Linked DNA regions of Homo sapiens. The protein of the gene in region 2 interacts with the protein of the main gene of each other region in a pairwise test. Each region holds a gene or a part of one and is shown on either strand. Other genes may lie near its edges.

Evidence for each region. The genes of interacting proteins can lie anywhere in the genome.
Region 1: the proteins of SYNJ2 (region 2) and ITSN2 interact in a two-hybrid assay, tested with the Homo sapiens proteins (2 studies listed by BioGRID and IntAct).

What each region holds. Positions count from the first base shown.
Region 1 is NC_000002.12:24,203,537-24,210,536, reverse strand, and holds part of ITSN2 (intersectin-2), read left to right. Parts: intron 1-503; coding exon 504-719; intron 720-1,315; coding exon 1,316-1,437; intron 1,438-2,217; coding exon 2,218-2,300; intron 2,301-4,261; coding exon of another isoform or gene 4,262-4,290; exon of another isoform or gene 4,291-4,293; intron 4,294-5,239; coding exon 5,240-5,323; intron 5,324-6,118; coding exon 6,119-6,292; intron 6,293-6,753; coding exon 6,754-6,911; 3' UTR 6,912-7,000.
Region 2 is NC_000006.12:157,984,406-157,992,236, forward strand, and holds part of SYNJ2 (synaptojanin-2), read left to right. Parts: intron 1-7,831. UniProt on the Homo sapiens protein: Inositol 5-phosphatase which may be involved in distinct membrane trafficking and signal transduction pathways. May mediate the inhibitory effect of Rac1 on endocytosis.

The sequences.
Region 1 (7,000 bases), on a different chromosome or scaffold from region 2:
GGGTTGGAGCGATTCTCTGGCCTCCATCTCCCAAGTAGCTGGGACTACAGGCATCTGCTACGATGCCCAGCTAATTTTCGTATTTTTAGTAGAGCTGGGGTTTCACCATGTTGGCCAGGCTGGTCTTGAACTCCTGGCGTCAAGTGATCCTCCCGCCTCTGTCTCCCAACAGTGCTGGGATTGCAGGCATGAAGGGCATTCCTTCTTGGATTGTCATCTTCCTTTCTCCTAAGGAGAGAACACTGGGATTTTTTGTTTTGAGTTCTTTGAATTCAGCTGGTAGAATCAGTGTTCTGTGGCTAGAAGTAATGATTTTCACTGGGCCAGTTTGGACTCTGAAGAGTAATGTATTTAAGGATCTTTCATGCAAAGTGAATGATTCTAGCCACATTCCCACCTAGAAAACTCCACCACAGTATCCTCAGGCCCAGGGCACTGGCCTCTCAGGGGCACTGGATGGTTTGTGCCGGGATTTAAAAAGTGAAATTTTCTTTCTCTTTAAGCAACTTATTTTCAACTCTCTCACCAACTGCCTGGGGCCCCGGAAGCTCTTACACAGTGGGAAATTATACAAGACCAAGAGCAACAAGGAACTGCACGGATTCCTCTTCAATGACTTCCTGCTTCTTACCTACATGGTCAAGCAGTTTGCTGTTTCCTCTGGCTCTGAGAAACTTTTCAGCTCGAAGTCCAATGCTCAATTCAAAATGTATAAAACGGTGAGTATCACGCGTCTGGGGGTAGCATCAGGGGCCTAATGAGGTGTTGCCTCTATCTTAAGGCCTTCCTGGCAGACCCTGAGCTGGCCTTACGGGACCCTCCTCACCTGGTTCCAGATCGCTCGTGCTTCCTTTGCTGCTTCCCACGGGAAGGGCCCCATGCAGCTGGGCACTCCCCACCTGCCACAGGCCATCAGCCAGATTCCAGCTGAGATTCTGGCTTCCTCCTGGCCAGCGTGACACCTGGGCTCACCACTGTGTGCATTCAGCATTGGGTCTCTGTAAGCCGAGCCCCAGCACAGCACCAGCGTTGCTAGCAGAGAGCCTTTTGCACCAGCCGTCATGGGCGCTTGGAGCTCCTGTCCCCACCCAGTCCCAACACCTGACCCACCTCGATAATGACTTTTCCAGAAATGGAGGCTTCATTGTTCTTACAAATGGAGGTTTCATTTGTTCTGTGTAGAAGACCTTAGACGCTAGACCCCTTTCTCCTTCTCAACAAGGCTCTTCAGAACAAACAGAACTCTCTCTGGACATAGGCGGGTGGAGTGTTCTAGCCCATCTCACAGCCTGTGTTTTGGCCCTAATTCTTTCAGCCCATTTTCCTGAATGAAGTCTTGGTGAAACTGCCCACAGACCCTTCCAGCGATGAGCCTGTCTTCCACATTTCCCACATTGATCGGGTCTACACCCTCCGAACAGACAACATTAATGAGAGGTCAGTCCTGACCATGTGTGGCCTGCCTTGAACTCTGGGAGAAGGCCTGGACGTCTCCCTCTGCCATAAACCCATCTCCAGCCGTGCTTAAGCCCCACTAATTCTGTATCCTGAACCTCTCTTAACACATCCCCTCTGCTCCAGTCCCATGGTAGGCCTTGGTCACTGCAGCTGCCTCCTAACATGCTTCCCGGCTTCTAGTCTCTCCCCACACCACTCAGCAGCCTTCCCAAATGGCAGATCAGCACCTGAGGCCCTGCTACAGTCCCTGCAGGGGCTGCCCGCAGGCGACAGCCCACTGTGCTTTGCTGGTTTCCGAGGCCTCCTTGGGCCACAGGCCTCAGCCCTCGTCCCTCCACCTGCAGACTTTCGCCCCTCAGGCGCCCTTGTGTGGGTGCCATCCCCGCTGTTCCCAGCTTCCTTCAGGCTGCAGCTCCAACAGTGCCTCCGCGGCGCCAACCCGGGGGGTGCTGCTGCTCCTCTGTGTGCGCTAGAACCCCTCGTGACAGGTATCATCCGTGGGGCCAATGCATCATCTGTCTCCAGGTCCCAGCGCCTTGCGAGTGCCTGGCATTTTGTGGTCAGCCAAGAAGGGTCACTACCAGCTCTCATACTCCATTAGCATAAGCATCTTTCAGTTGACTAATATCAGGTCTTTGATAGGAAACTTGTGAAAGTTGAGGTTAGCAAAAGACTGAAGAACATGTGCAGAGCTCTGGGGCTCCACGCTGACCTGTGAGGGTGGGATGCGGCCAACGGCTGCCCCTGCTTCTCCCGTAGGACCGCCTGGGTGCAGAAGATCAAGGCGGCGTCTGAGCAGTACATCGACACCGAGAAGAAGAAGCGTGAGAAAGCTTACCAAGGTATCAGGGTGCCCGGAGGGTGGGACGCAGCCCCCAGGGGCCCTAGGAATGCCGGCCACTGCTCCTGCAGTCAGGCTGATGATATAGGGACGGGTCTGAAAGACCAGACCTGCTGCGGGATCAGACCAGAGAGCCCTCCCCTCTTGAAGCTACTACTGCAAACCTCCCTGGGGCTCCTGCCCACACAGACACGGGCTGGCAGTGCCAGCTCCGGGACCTCCCTCTCTGCACCACCTCTATCCCCCCCACTCCACTGCACCTTCTCCACTCCTTTCTCTCCATGACTCACCTCACCTCTGCTTGGGCTGTGGTGCTCCATTACATGCCACACCTGTGGTCTGTCTCCCTTCAGCTCCTGAGCAGCCACTGCTCCTCCTCACCCTCCTCTAGGGCCTGCCATCCACCCTCTCCCTTTGCAGCCAGGGGGCCTAGACCCTAAGTCTGCCCTCTCCCCATCCTTCTGCCCCTGCCTCCTCCCCCTTCTCACTTCACCAGACTTCAGTCCACGTCCTGTCCCCACCAGTGACACCAGTGGCCTAGTTAGTGGCTCAGCTCACTTTCCCTGCCCCAGCTCCCTGCACTGATGGCAGTCACTGAGGCGCTGCCTTCCCTCTGGACCCCATGGCCGCCTTCCCAGTTCTTCTTCCACCCTTGCCCAGGCCTCTCCCCGACCTCTGTAGCGCTCTCCCTCGGGGACCCCACCGACCCCCAGCTTCAGGGTCAGGCTAGCCACACTCTCCCAAGCCCGCGCCTCTGAACAGCACCCTCCAGAGAACCACCTGCCCCGCTGCTCCCACATCACACATCGGCTTTTCCCAAGGGACCACCAGCCTCCTTCCAGCAGCAGCTCCTCCTGGGACCCTCTGTGGACAGTAGTGTGGTCCCTGGCCACCCAGGCCCCTCCCTGGCACCTCACACCTGGTCAGCTGCACTGCAGTCCTCCTCCCTCGCCACTTTCCCATCGCCCTTTCCTGTCCCCGTATCACAGGCCCCCGATCTCCCACCCAGGCTGCAGCACAAGGCTCTCTTTCCTCTCTGCCACCCATCCTCTTCATTTCTGGAGTATTCTTTTTTCCAGAGCTGCTCTTATACCTCTTCCTGCTGAAGTATCTTCCCTATTGCCTCCCAAATTAACGACACATTTCTTACCCCACACTCAGGGCCCATCCCCACTACTACCTGCCACCCAGCCCCATCCCTAGCTCTTTCCTGTGCCCGGCCCATCCAGCTGCCTAGTTGAGCAGCCCATTGTTGCCCTGCCTGGCCTTCCCATGTGAGCTCCCCCTCCAGCTCAAGTGCTCTGCCCTCACCTTAAATTCTTCCCATCCTTCAAGGCCCACGTCAAACACAGCCTCCTCCATGACACCCTCTTGCCCTAACCAGTGTGACTTCTACCTGGACCCCCCGCTGTCCTGAGGCTGCGATCATCCTCCGGGCGCTCATCCTCTGTTGCCTCTGCTTGCGCCCTCTCAGTCCCTGCTTTTCTCACTTAATGGCCATAAGCTCCCTCAAGGCAACTCCCTCCCACATCGGGGCCAGCATGTGACTTATGCCAGTGGGGCTCCAGATTTGTTGCACCGGTGATGTCCTCTGTGTTCATGGCACAGATCACTCACCTGCTCAGTGGAGCCGCAATGGTCTTTGTAAAGCACCCCCCACCCCACCCTGCCCCACCGTGGCCTTCAGACCAGAGCTCCCACATTCTTCTCCAGCCTCCACATGAATGCCAGGCCCCAACCTCCCTGCTGCATCTCCAGCTGTGCCAGGCCAGCCTGTGGCCTCCACCCCACAGGGGGCCTGTGCTCTGAGCCAGCTGCATCTCCACCTTCCTCCCCGCCGGCCCCCTGCATCTCCACCTTCCTTCCCGCCGGGCCCCCCCATGCAGCCTGCCCTCCTGCCTGGGCCTCCCACCAGCTTCCTGGCTGCTATAGTTGCAGCTCTTTATGTGTTTTTTTATTCAGGTTTCCCCCATTTTGTTATATACTCCTAAAAGGTATGTTTAAAACAGCTTTTGCTAATTTAGTGTTATTTTAATGGTACTTTAAAAGCTTGCTGTTGAAAAATCAATGATTGATCATTTCATAACGCATATGATCTCTTAATTGGCCAAAGATGTCAATCCGGTTTTTCTGCCTGAGTTTTGCTTCCCATCAGCATCTGCATATGTTGCTGTGCATCGTCCGTGCGTTCAGTCCTTCCCACATTTGTCAATTACTTTGTGCCAGGCTCTGTGCTAGGCTTAACTGAGCCTGGACTTTGGTATCTGATGTTTAAATGTTGACCCTGCCATTTAGCAGCTCTGAGTGGATCACACTCCAGTCCTTTCTAAGCCTCAGTGTTTCTCATCAGTAAAATGGGGAGCTACATTATCAGGTAATTATGCAGTTTAAATAATATAATTTACATAAGTCTAGCACATGCCTAACACAAAGTAAGTATCCAGTAAATGTTAGCTGCTATTAAGTGCTGCACAAATACCATGTATTATTTTATTAATATTACTATTTGCTAGGCAATTGAGGGGTTAATATAAGGATGATCGAAACAGTCCATGCTCTACCCTGGCTCCTGTCTGGCAGAGGAGACAGACATTACACACGATTTCAGACCCAGCAGGCTGTGGGCTGCTCATAAGCGAGGGATACTGGATGCAGAGGAGGGAAGGGATCTGGGAGGTAGATGTGGGATCAGACCTGCATCTTGAAGGATGAGTAGGATGCTGACGGGCAGAGAAAGCAGGCAGGGCAGAAAGAGCAAGCAGGGGCTTCCTAGCAGGCAACACAGCCTGGGGAAAGGCACAGGGCAGCCAGATGCTGGGCTGTTGGGCCCAGGGCAGTGGCAGATGGGGACAGGGAGCCGGTAGTGTTATGGTTGGTTTGAAAGACAGGGTCTGCATCCTTGGAGAAGAGATTAATGAGACTTGTCTTCCTCTTTTGTAGCCCGCTCCCAAAAGACTTCAGGCATTGGGCGCCTGATGGTGCATGTCATTGAAGCTACAGAATTAAAAGCCTGCAAACCAAATGGTAAATACTGCCTTGATTCATTCAGCAGACATAACTGCCCTGCCCCAGTTTTTGCTGATGACTTTTTGAGACAGAGTCTCAGTGTATAACCTAGGCTGGAGTGCAGTGGCACGATCTTGGCTCACTGCAACCTCTGCCTCTGGGGTACAAGTGATTCTCAAGGCTTAGCCTCCTGAGTAGCTGGGATTACAGGTGTGCACCACCACGCCTGGCAAATTCTTGTATTTTTAGTAGACACAGGGTTTCACCATGTTGGCCAGGCTGGTCTCGAACTCCTGACCTCAAGTGATCTGCCCGCCTCGGCCTCCCAAAGTGCTGGGATTACAGCACTTTGTCACTGACAAAGTGCCACTGCGCCCAGCCACTGATGACTCTTCTGAACACTGAATAAAGGAATGCTTTCTAACAGTGTGTCCAGTGCCACTAAAATGCGCATATTGGACCAATATTCTTATCACTGTTTTCCCAGTAAGTGCCAGTGCCCGCCTTCCCGAGTGTGTCTGCGCCGAGGAAGCATGCAGCAGGTTGCAGTGACACTCACCCAGGATTGTTCCGTGCGGAGTGGTCCTGGCGGTGGAGCTCTCGGCCACTCCCCAGTTAATGCTGCTGTCAGCACTGGGAACTTGGAGACCCTGTTACTAGACCACAGGGATATGGTGCCCCAGGCAGCGGCTCCTGCTGCCATGGTCTCGAGTGACCCATTATTGGAATCCTGCTTCTGCTCAGGGAGGGCACTGTCAGTCGCTTCGTTTTACCTGCATGCACCACATGTGTCTGTGGTTTGTTTTTGTTCAGGAAAGAGCAACCCATACTGTGAAATCAGCATGGGCTCCCAGAGCTACACCACCAGGACCATCCAGGACACACTCAATCCCAAGTGGAATTTTAACTGCCAGTTCTTTATTAAGGATCTCTACCAAGACGTGCTGTGTCTCACCCTGTTTGACAGAGACCAGTTTTCACCAGATGGTAAGTGTCGCTCAGCCAGGGGATCTAAAGGCTTTCCCAGTTTCCTAGATCCTGGAGTCCAGATCTAGGGGCTTCAGCTGTGTGCAGACCCCATGCCACTTCAGGGAAGTGACACAGGCCTGTGTCATCTCGCTTTGGCAGCAGGTGGGTGGCCTTCCTCAGGGGAGGAGGTGGCCTGAGATGTGTTTCAGGTCTTTGACCCATCACTCCCTACACACACGACGTGAACACCACTCCTGGAGCATTCTCAGAATGGAGATTTGAATTCCATGTGGCAGCTTCTCACACACAAACCTGCCATCATTCCCCACACACCCACTCACGACATTCAACAGCCATGAGCCAAAAGAAGTTCCTTGTTTCAGATTTGAAGGTTTTATGAATCCACTTCTTCCGGATGTAGCTCTTTAATGATTTTATAAAGAAGAAAGACTTCTGACTCTCCTGTGTTTATTCACCAGATTTCCTGGGTCGTACTGAAATTCCAGTGGCAAAAATTCGAACAGAACAGGAAAGCAAAGGCCCTATGACCCGCCGACTGCTGCTGCATGAGGTCCCCACCGGGGAGGTCTGGGTCCGTTTTGACCTGCAGCTTTTTGAGCAAAAAACTCTCCTGTAGGGGTTCTAAAGGACAGCACCAGCGGGACAGCCCACAAGGCTGGGGCTGGAGAATGAGAGACTGCGCTCTCTTGGGGCTGAGGGAGCACC
Region 2 (7,831 bases):
TTCTTTTTTTTGAGATGGAGCTTCACTCTTGTTGCCTGGGCTGAGTGAAGTGGTGCGATCTCGGCTGACTGCAACACCGCCACCCCCACCTGGGTTCAAGTGATTCTCCTGCCTCAGCCTCCCCAGTAGCTAGGATTACAGGCACACGCCACCATGCCTGGCTAATTTTTGTATTTTTAGTAGAGACGGGGTTGTGCCATTTTGGCCAGGCTGGTTTCTAACTCCTGACCTTAGGTGATCCACCTGCTTTGGCCTCCCAAAGTGCTAGGATTACAGGCGTGAGCCACCATGCCTGACCCGAGAAGGTGAATTTTTACAAGAAGGCTGCAATCTCTACTTTTGTATGGGACAGGACACTTGTGGCAGCTGGCGTAGCTGGTGGTCTAATCTTGACCTTTCACCCTTTCCTTGAAGTTCCGAGTCGGGGGTAGCTTCCTTTTCTCTTCAGCTGTGGTTTTCCTGTGATGGGTCCCTCCCAGTTAGTAATGAGAGGCTGAGAGACAAGTTGTGGTAACTGCTTCGTGGGTAGTGGTCTTTCCCGGCCCCTGAGTCATTCTAACTTCCATCCTGCTCCGCTGCGGATGCACATAGCTGCTTTCCTAGGGGCGAGAGGAGATGAGGGGACTGGGCCTGATGACCACAGGCGCTGCCCCTTCATAGCACATTTTATTCCTGAAGGATCCTAACTGGAAAAGTACCTCTCGCCGAAGGGGCTGGGTGGTTCCTTATCATTTTCAGGCAAGGCCTGGAGACAGGGGCTTGAACTGGGCTGTGATTTTTAGGAAAAACGGATGGTCCATGATTCGTTGATTGCTGGACTCCTTCCATCTGAACCTGTCTTCACCTGTCTTCACCTGTCCTGCTCTAAAGTGAACTCTTCACACTAGGGCCGTCTGGCCTGCTAGCAGGATTGTTGAAGGAATTATTCCAAATTCCTGCTTCTAAAAGAATTAGGTTGTGAATCTGAATCTGTCTTTTATGTAGATCAGTGGGAGCAAAAATTCCAGAGGCAGAAAAGCCAAATGTATTGGCACTGATTTAAAAGGCTTTTATGAAGTCTCGGGAACCTGACTGGAGGGTAGTTGGCCTTCTCAGCACAGGTGGGAAGCCCCGTAGCCGGTACCAGCATCCCTGGCCAACAATCCACAATTAGCAAACAGATGTTCCCTTATTTGCACATGGGACAAAAACCTACTCCTGTCTCTGTCTCTTGTAAACTTAGGGAAAAGTGCTTATTGTTAATGGATTTTGTGTATTTTCAGAGTAAGCGACAGTGTTCCAAAGTTCAAGGTTCTCCAACAGCCCCCAGGAACGGTGGCCTGAGGGTGTCCCTGTGTTTACAGTGCGGGCTGTGTGTGAGTGAAGTCGTGCCTCCTGCCGCCCAGCCGGGCTTTGCTGTGAACAGGCAGCAGGGAGGGAGGGATGGGGCAGGAGACTTGAGAGAATTAATTAAGTTAATTAATGGGTGTCCCTAAATTACTTTGAGCTTCTGGGGGGAAAGGTTCTGTGTAAACACCAGGCCCCCAGGTTCTCCCAGCTGCTGTTGTGCGAGGCCACGTCTCGAGTTTAGCTTTGTTTGAATTGGTGAGATGGCCCCAGGGCAGAGCAGGACTCAGTCTGAACTGTTGCCTAGATCACTTTCTCAGGCATTATGGCCAGATTTATTTGGTCACGGACTGGAATTTTGATCTGCTAGAGAGGACCACAGAGAATCAAATAAGTCACCATTTTATAAATGCTCCTGGACAAAGTTGAAACCACAGGTAGGACCAGGCAAGGGTTCCGGGGCCCCTGACGTGGGAAACTAGAGCAGCGACCCGGGACCACAGTGGTCTGTCTGCCTCCAGGACTGGTTTGCCTCCTCTCCTAGCCGGAGGCTGTCTCAGCGTAGTGTTTACAAAATGCAAACTGGGATGGTGTGTGCTTCTCCCGCGGGTTTTGTTTGTTTGTTTGAGACGGAGTCTCTTTGCCCAGCTGGAGTACAATGGCGCAATCTTGGCTCACTGCAACCCCCACCTCCCAGGTTCAAGGGATTCTCCTGCCTCAGCCTCCTGAGTAGCTGGGACTACAGGCATGCACCACCACGCCCGGCTAATATTTGTATTTTTAGTAGAGAAAGGGTTTCACCATGTTGGTCAGGCTGGTCTCAAACTCCTGGCCCCAAATGATCCGCCCACCTCAGCCTCTCAAAGTGCTGGGGTTACAGGCAATGAGCCACCACGCCCGGCCTTCCCCGTGATTTTTGTAGCTCACCTGTAAGATCGTGATTTCAAATCTTACCAGGCTCTTGTTTTGGCTGTGTGGCTCAAAAACTTGGCTTTTAGCCTTTAATTGTGAAAACGTTCAAACACAAAAGTAGAGGGAAAAATGAATCCCCTGTCTACCTGCCATTCGGCATTGATAGTTATCAATATATTGCCATTTTTATTTCACTTGTCCCTGTATTTTTTATGAAAACGTGAATCTCCTAAAATTTAGTTTGTTTAAAGCCAGGCAAGATTCTAATTTGTTGGGTTGGCTTTTTTTTTTTTCTTGCATTTAGATATAGAAGTTCAATTTTTTTATTTTATTGTAAATTGACAAATTATTATCGTTTTTTGAGATGGAGTCTTGCTCTGTCGCCCAGCTGGGAGTGCTGTGGCACAATCTTGGCTCACTGCAACCTCTTCCTCCCAGGTTCAAGTGATTCTCTGGCCTTAGCCTTCCGAGTAGCTGGGACTATAGGCGTGTGCTACCATGCCCGGCTAATTTTTGTATTTTTAGTAGAGATGGCATTTCACCATGTTGGCCAGGCTGGTATCGAACTCCTGACCTCAGGTGATCCACCCGCTTCGGCCTCCCAAAGTGCTGGGATTATAGGCGTGAGCCACTGTGCTAGGCCAACAGATTAGGATGATTATATATTATGGGGTACAAAGTGATCATATATGTGTACAATGTGGAATGATTAAATCAAGATGATTAACGTAGTCATCACCTCAAATACTTCTTTGTTTATTTATTTATCTTTTTTGAGGTGGAGTCTTGCTCTCTCACCCAGGCTGGAGTGCAGTGGCACCGATCTCGGCTCACTGTAACCTCCGCCTCCCAGGTTCAAGCGATTCTCCTGCCTCAGCCTCCTGAGTAGCTGGGACTACAGGCGCGTGCCATCACGTCCGGCTAATTTTTGTATTTTTAGTAGAGATGGGGTTTCGCCGTGTTGGCCAAGCTGGTCTCGAACTCCCGACTTCAAGTGATCCGCCCGCCTCGGCCTCCCAAAGTTCTGGGATTACAGACATGAGCCACTGCACCTGACCACTTATTGTTTGTAGGGAGAACATTTGAAATTTACTCTCCTAGTGATTTCAAAATATACATTATTATTAACTATAGTTACCATGCTATGCAAGTTCGAAATTTACTTGGCAGATTTCGTGTGGCCAGCAGCAGAAATGGTGGCATGAACTGATTCTGAGACATTGGCCAAGACACATTTTTAAAAGCAAAGTGACCACTTGGGAAGGGTCGACCACAGCCTGGAAGAACAGGGAGCGCTCTGCTGGTGAGCTCGGGAGGACAAGGTCTGGGCCCTTTGACGGCACTGCCTCTAGCCCCGGGCAAGAGAGGGCCGAGGGCCATGTCCAGTGGCCTCTATGCTCCCCTTTCTGGATGACATTCCTGCTGCTCAAGACCCTGGAGTGTGCTAAGCACATAGTGCAGCCTGCTCAGCCCCCTCCCAGGGCCTCAGGCAGACTGTGCAGCCGTATGTCCACCCCAGGCCCGGGCGTTGGGGTGGCAAGGGCATGTTACAGGTGGAACGGGACACACACTAGCTGGGACTCTGTGTGTGTATGCACGAGGCTCCCTGCAGGGGGGCATGAAGCCCAGGTTGGGGGAAGTCGGGGAAGAGAAGGTGGCCAGGCTGGGGCCGCCCTCCCCACTGGCTACATAATGAACCTGGCCTTCCAGGTAGTCACGGTGGCATACTTTTCGAGGTAGGAGGATAGAACCTATTTTATTTAACTGTTTTACTTTGTTAGCTTGATTTAAAACTGAACAGCTGGGCATACAGGATGCAGCACTCATGAGTACTCTGGCCCCAGACCCTACAGATATTCAGGCAGACCTGTCCTGGGCACCTGTCCCAGCCCGTGTCTCTCTGCTGTGTCTCTCTTCTGGAGCGTTCCTGGGGTGCTCAGGGTCCCCTTTGTGCTTTTTGGCTGCTCAGTTTCTGTTGCTGGGCTCCTTCGGCCTTCCCACTGAGGATGGGGAATATATTCTGTTTTCTTTCCACTTGAATTGTCCTTAAAGCCATGGGTAAACTGGTTCAGGCTCAGACTTGGGAATTTGATCGGAGTCCCTTTAGCATTTCTGGGCAGGGCTTGTTGGTGTCGTGGCCAGCTGTCCTCGAGGTGAAAACCAAATTGGGTTGGGAGGGTGCACATGACACTTAAAGCCCCCAGAGCTGCGGTGCCATCAACCACACACTGTGGACAGGAGGCTGTCAGTGGGCAGGCTGGGTCCACCTTCAAAGTCCATACGAAACAGCCCAGTTCAGGGTACTGCTTCTTTTCGAGATCTCACGGGCAGGAGCCTTCTGGCACTGTTCATGTAAATGTAAGTCATTCTTTCTTTCTGGAGGAAAATTTAGACAGGTGAATGAAAACCGGAGTGCTTAATCCGCTATTCTACATGCAGAAGTTTATCTCAGGAAACAGTCCCAGATCACTAGCCCATTTTGCTTCAAGGATGTTTATTGCAAGCTGTTTTGAGTTTTTCACTGGTTAAATAAACTTTGGTTCAACTTGATCATAATAGCTGACATTTGTGGAGTGTTTACCACCTACCAGGTGCTGATCCAAGTGGCTTACATTTATTAACTTACTTCATCCTTATGTCAAGGCAAGTACTAGTAATCTCCATTTTACACTTGGGGAAACTGAGGCACAAGAGGCCTAAGAACTTGCCTGAGGCTCCACCTCCAGTGGAAGGCTCCAGAGAACAATATGTTCAGTAAAATCTCATTCTTATGTAAAAAAATGAATATATATATATATATATATATATATATATATATATATATGGAAAAAGACTCCCTTTGTCCTGTTGTCTCTGGCTTATCTTGGTTTTCATCTGACATACACTTTTGATCGAGGAGGTTCCCACTTGGGGAAACAGCCAGCCCCTTTCTGAGCAGAGGGTGTGGCACTACAAAGGCGAAACATGATCTCTGGGAGAAACATGCTTGAAGCCCACGCTCCTGGGGGCAGAGCTGAGCCTCCACACGGATGTCCCCAGCACTGGGAGCAGAGGCTGATGCGGCCCCAAGGTGCTGAGGAAAGCGCCCCCCAGTGCAAAGGATGCTACAAGGCCCCAGGCTTCTCAAGGAACATGAGGCCTGGCAAACCCAGAACGTTAGACTGGGTCGGCTCCAAGATGCCCCTGGGTTTGAGCTGGAGAAGTGTCTGCGGGAGGGTGCTGGGGCTCCTGCAGAGCGTGTCTTCCTGACCCTGTGGGCTTTTCTGGGGGGGGCTAGGAGGCTCTGCCAAGTTGGTGGATGGAACTGTGCCTTGCCCTGGGGGGCACTGGGCAGGAGCCAGCCTCGGAGCGTGAGTCTGGTGCTGCGCCAGGAGGCTAGATGCCCCGGCCAGGTCCTGTGGGCTGCGCCGTCTGTGCCCTTGGCCCGCGAGGCTGGCAGGCTGCCACTGCTTGTAAAGCCTCCTGGTTGAAAAGGTGACTCGGAGCAGCGGATTCACTGGGAGCCTGTCAGCCACAGAGGCAGCTTGTGCTTGTGCCCCAGGCCCAGGCCGCAGGAGGTGGGATCAAGTTCCACGGCTCCAGTGTGAAGGTCTGAGCTTCATTCTAAGGCAGGTTTTTGAGGACATGGGGCTCTCGGGCACCTGGTTGTATTCCTGCATCCTGCATTCCTGCCCACTCTCTCATGCCTTCTTCTCCTTCTCCTTGGCGTGCCCCAAGCCAGCCTTCCATCTCAGATGGAGTTGTATGTTTCTAGTGAGCCCACACACCCCCTGAGGACAGGGCCTCACCCCCGCACGCCTGCTTCTTCATCACAGCTGCTAGGAAATGAAGATGCATGTCCCCAGGGGCCTTTGAAGTAGGATGTGGTCTCCCTGAGCAGAACTCTGACTCTAAATTCTCTCCTGGCTCTGGCGTTGGTGTGGGACTTGGGTTGCGGGAGGGGGCAGGTTGTTAGCGGCTGCTGCTCAGACCCAGCGGAGGACCGGGCTGCTCCAGGCTCCCGGCAAGATGTAGCAAAATGGCCAAATTTAAGGTGAGCACGGGCTCCCGTGCAGTTTCTCACCCCTGCTGCTGGCTGCCTGTCTGTGAATGCTAAGGCGAGGGGTGGTTCTACATTGACTTCTTACTGACTGGTGGGAGTAACCCGGAAGAGGCAAATGACTTCCTTCCCTTTCCTCGGCTCTGAACCTAGAATGTTCCAGTGATACCACCTCCAAACTCTTCACCTGTGTCCTTTCCCACCTCTCTGCCCTGAGGACAGGGAACTAAGTGGCTGCTCACGGTGGGTAAAACTGAGGCTTACAAGACACCTTGGGCAATGGGACAGCCAGACCCCAGCCCTCAGCACCTGCCTCTCCCATCCCAAGCCCCAGTCTCTTTTTCAGCTGCAAAGTCAATACCTTTGCTTTCAGAGAGGGAGCATGTGCCACGCCAGGAGAGGCTTTGGGTGTATCACAGATGGAGACTGCCTAGCTTAACTGCGCAGTCTGAATGATTCTAAGGAGGGGAAGAGAGAACGCCTCTGGAGCCTGGCACACACATTTGCCGGAGAAAGTGGTGAGTGCGTTGTGACCAGGTGAGGGACGAACCTTAAGGAGATTGGCTGAGAACACCTCCCCTCCTCACCCTAAGTCAACAAACCCGGGACAGCAGTGCTTCCAAAACCTTACTTGTTCACCTCACCTGGAGATTCTTGTGGCAAATCGGGTTCTGCCTCGTTGGCTCTGGGGTGGGCCTTGAGAGCCTGCCGTTCTAACAAGCTCCCAGGTGATGCTGATCCACGACCAGCTTTGAGTACCAGGATCTCGCATCAGCTTGGGAGGGAGGAGACCTGAATCCTAGCCCTGGCTCCTTAGGCTCTTCTTTCCAGTGGGGGAATTTAGTTAATTGCTCCGGGCCCCAATATCTTAATCTGAAAACAAATGAATGACAACCTAGTTGCCTTTCCTACTCTGAGATTCCATGCGTCTTAAAAGAAAAAAGTTTTAAAACTAAACATGTCACTGTCACCATCGCTACTTCACACACCTAAAGTTATAAACCACTCAGAAATGCAAATCTTAGGAGATGTGATCTGGCAAGGCAAAATCGAAGATGGCTTTGAGGTCTCAGCTAAACCTAGAAATCTGATGCTCTGCATTTTTTATGGGATGCTTATGAATTAATGAAAATACATGAGATTATCTCTCCTTGAGTCTACCCTTTCCTACAACCAGCAAAAACTTATAAAAAGCAATTGAAGCTTACTTTGGGAATGCCAAGGGATTGATTAAAATATGGACTGTGCTGATTCCATGGCTGGTTTAGCAGATTCTTGTTAAAAGCCATGACTTTTTAAAATTTTTATTTTTTTGTGGGTACATAGTAGGTATATATATTTATGGGATACATGAGATATTTTGATACAGGCATGTAATATGTAATAACCACATCATGGAAAATGGGGCATCCATCCCCTCACACATTTATCTTTTGTGTTACAAACCAATTATACTCTTTTAGTTATTTTAAAATGTACAGTTAAATTATATAGTCACCATGTTGTGCTATCAAGTACCAGTTCTTATTCATTCCTTTTATTTTTATTTGTTTT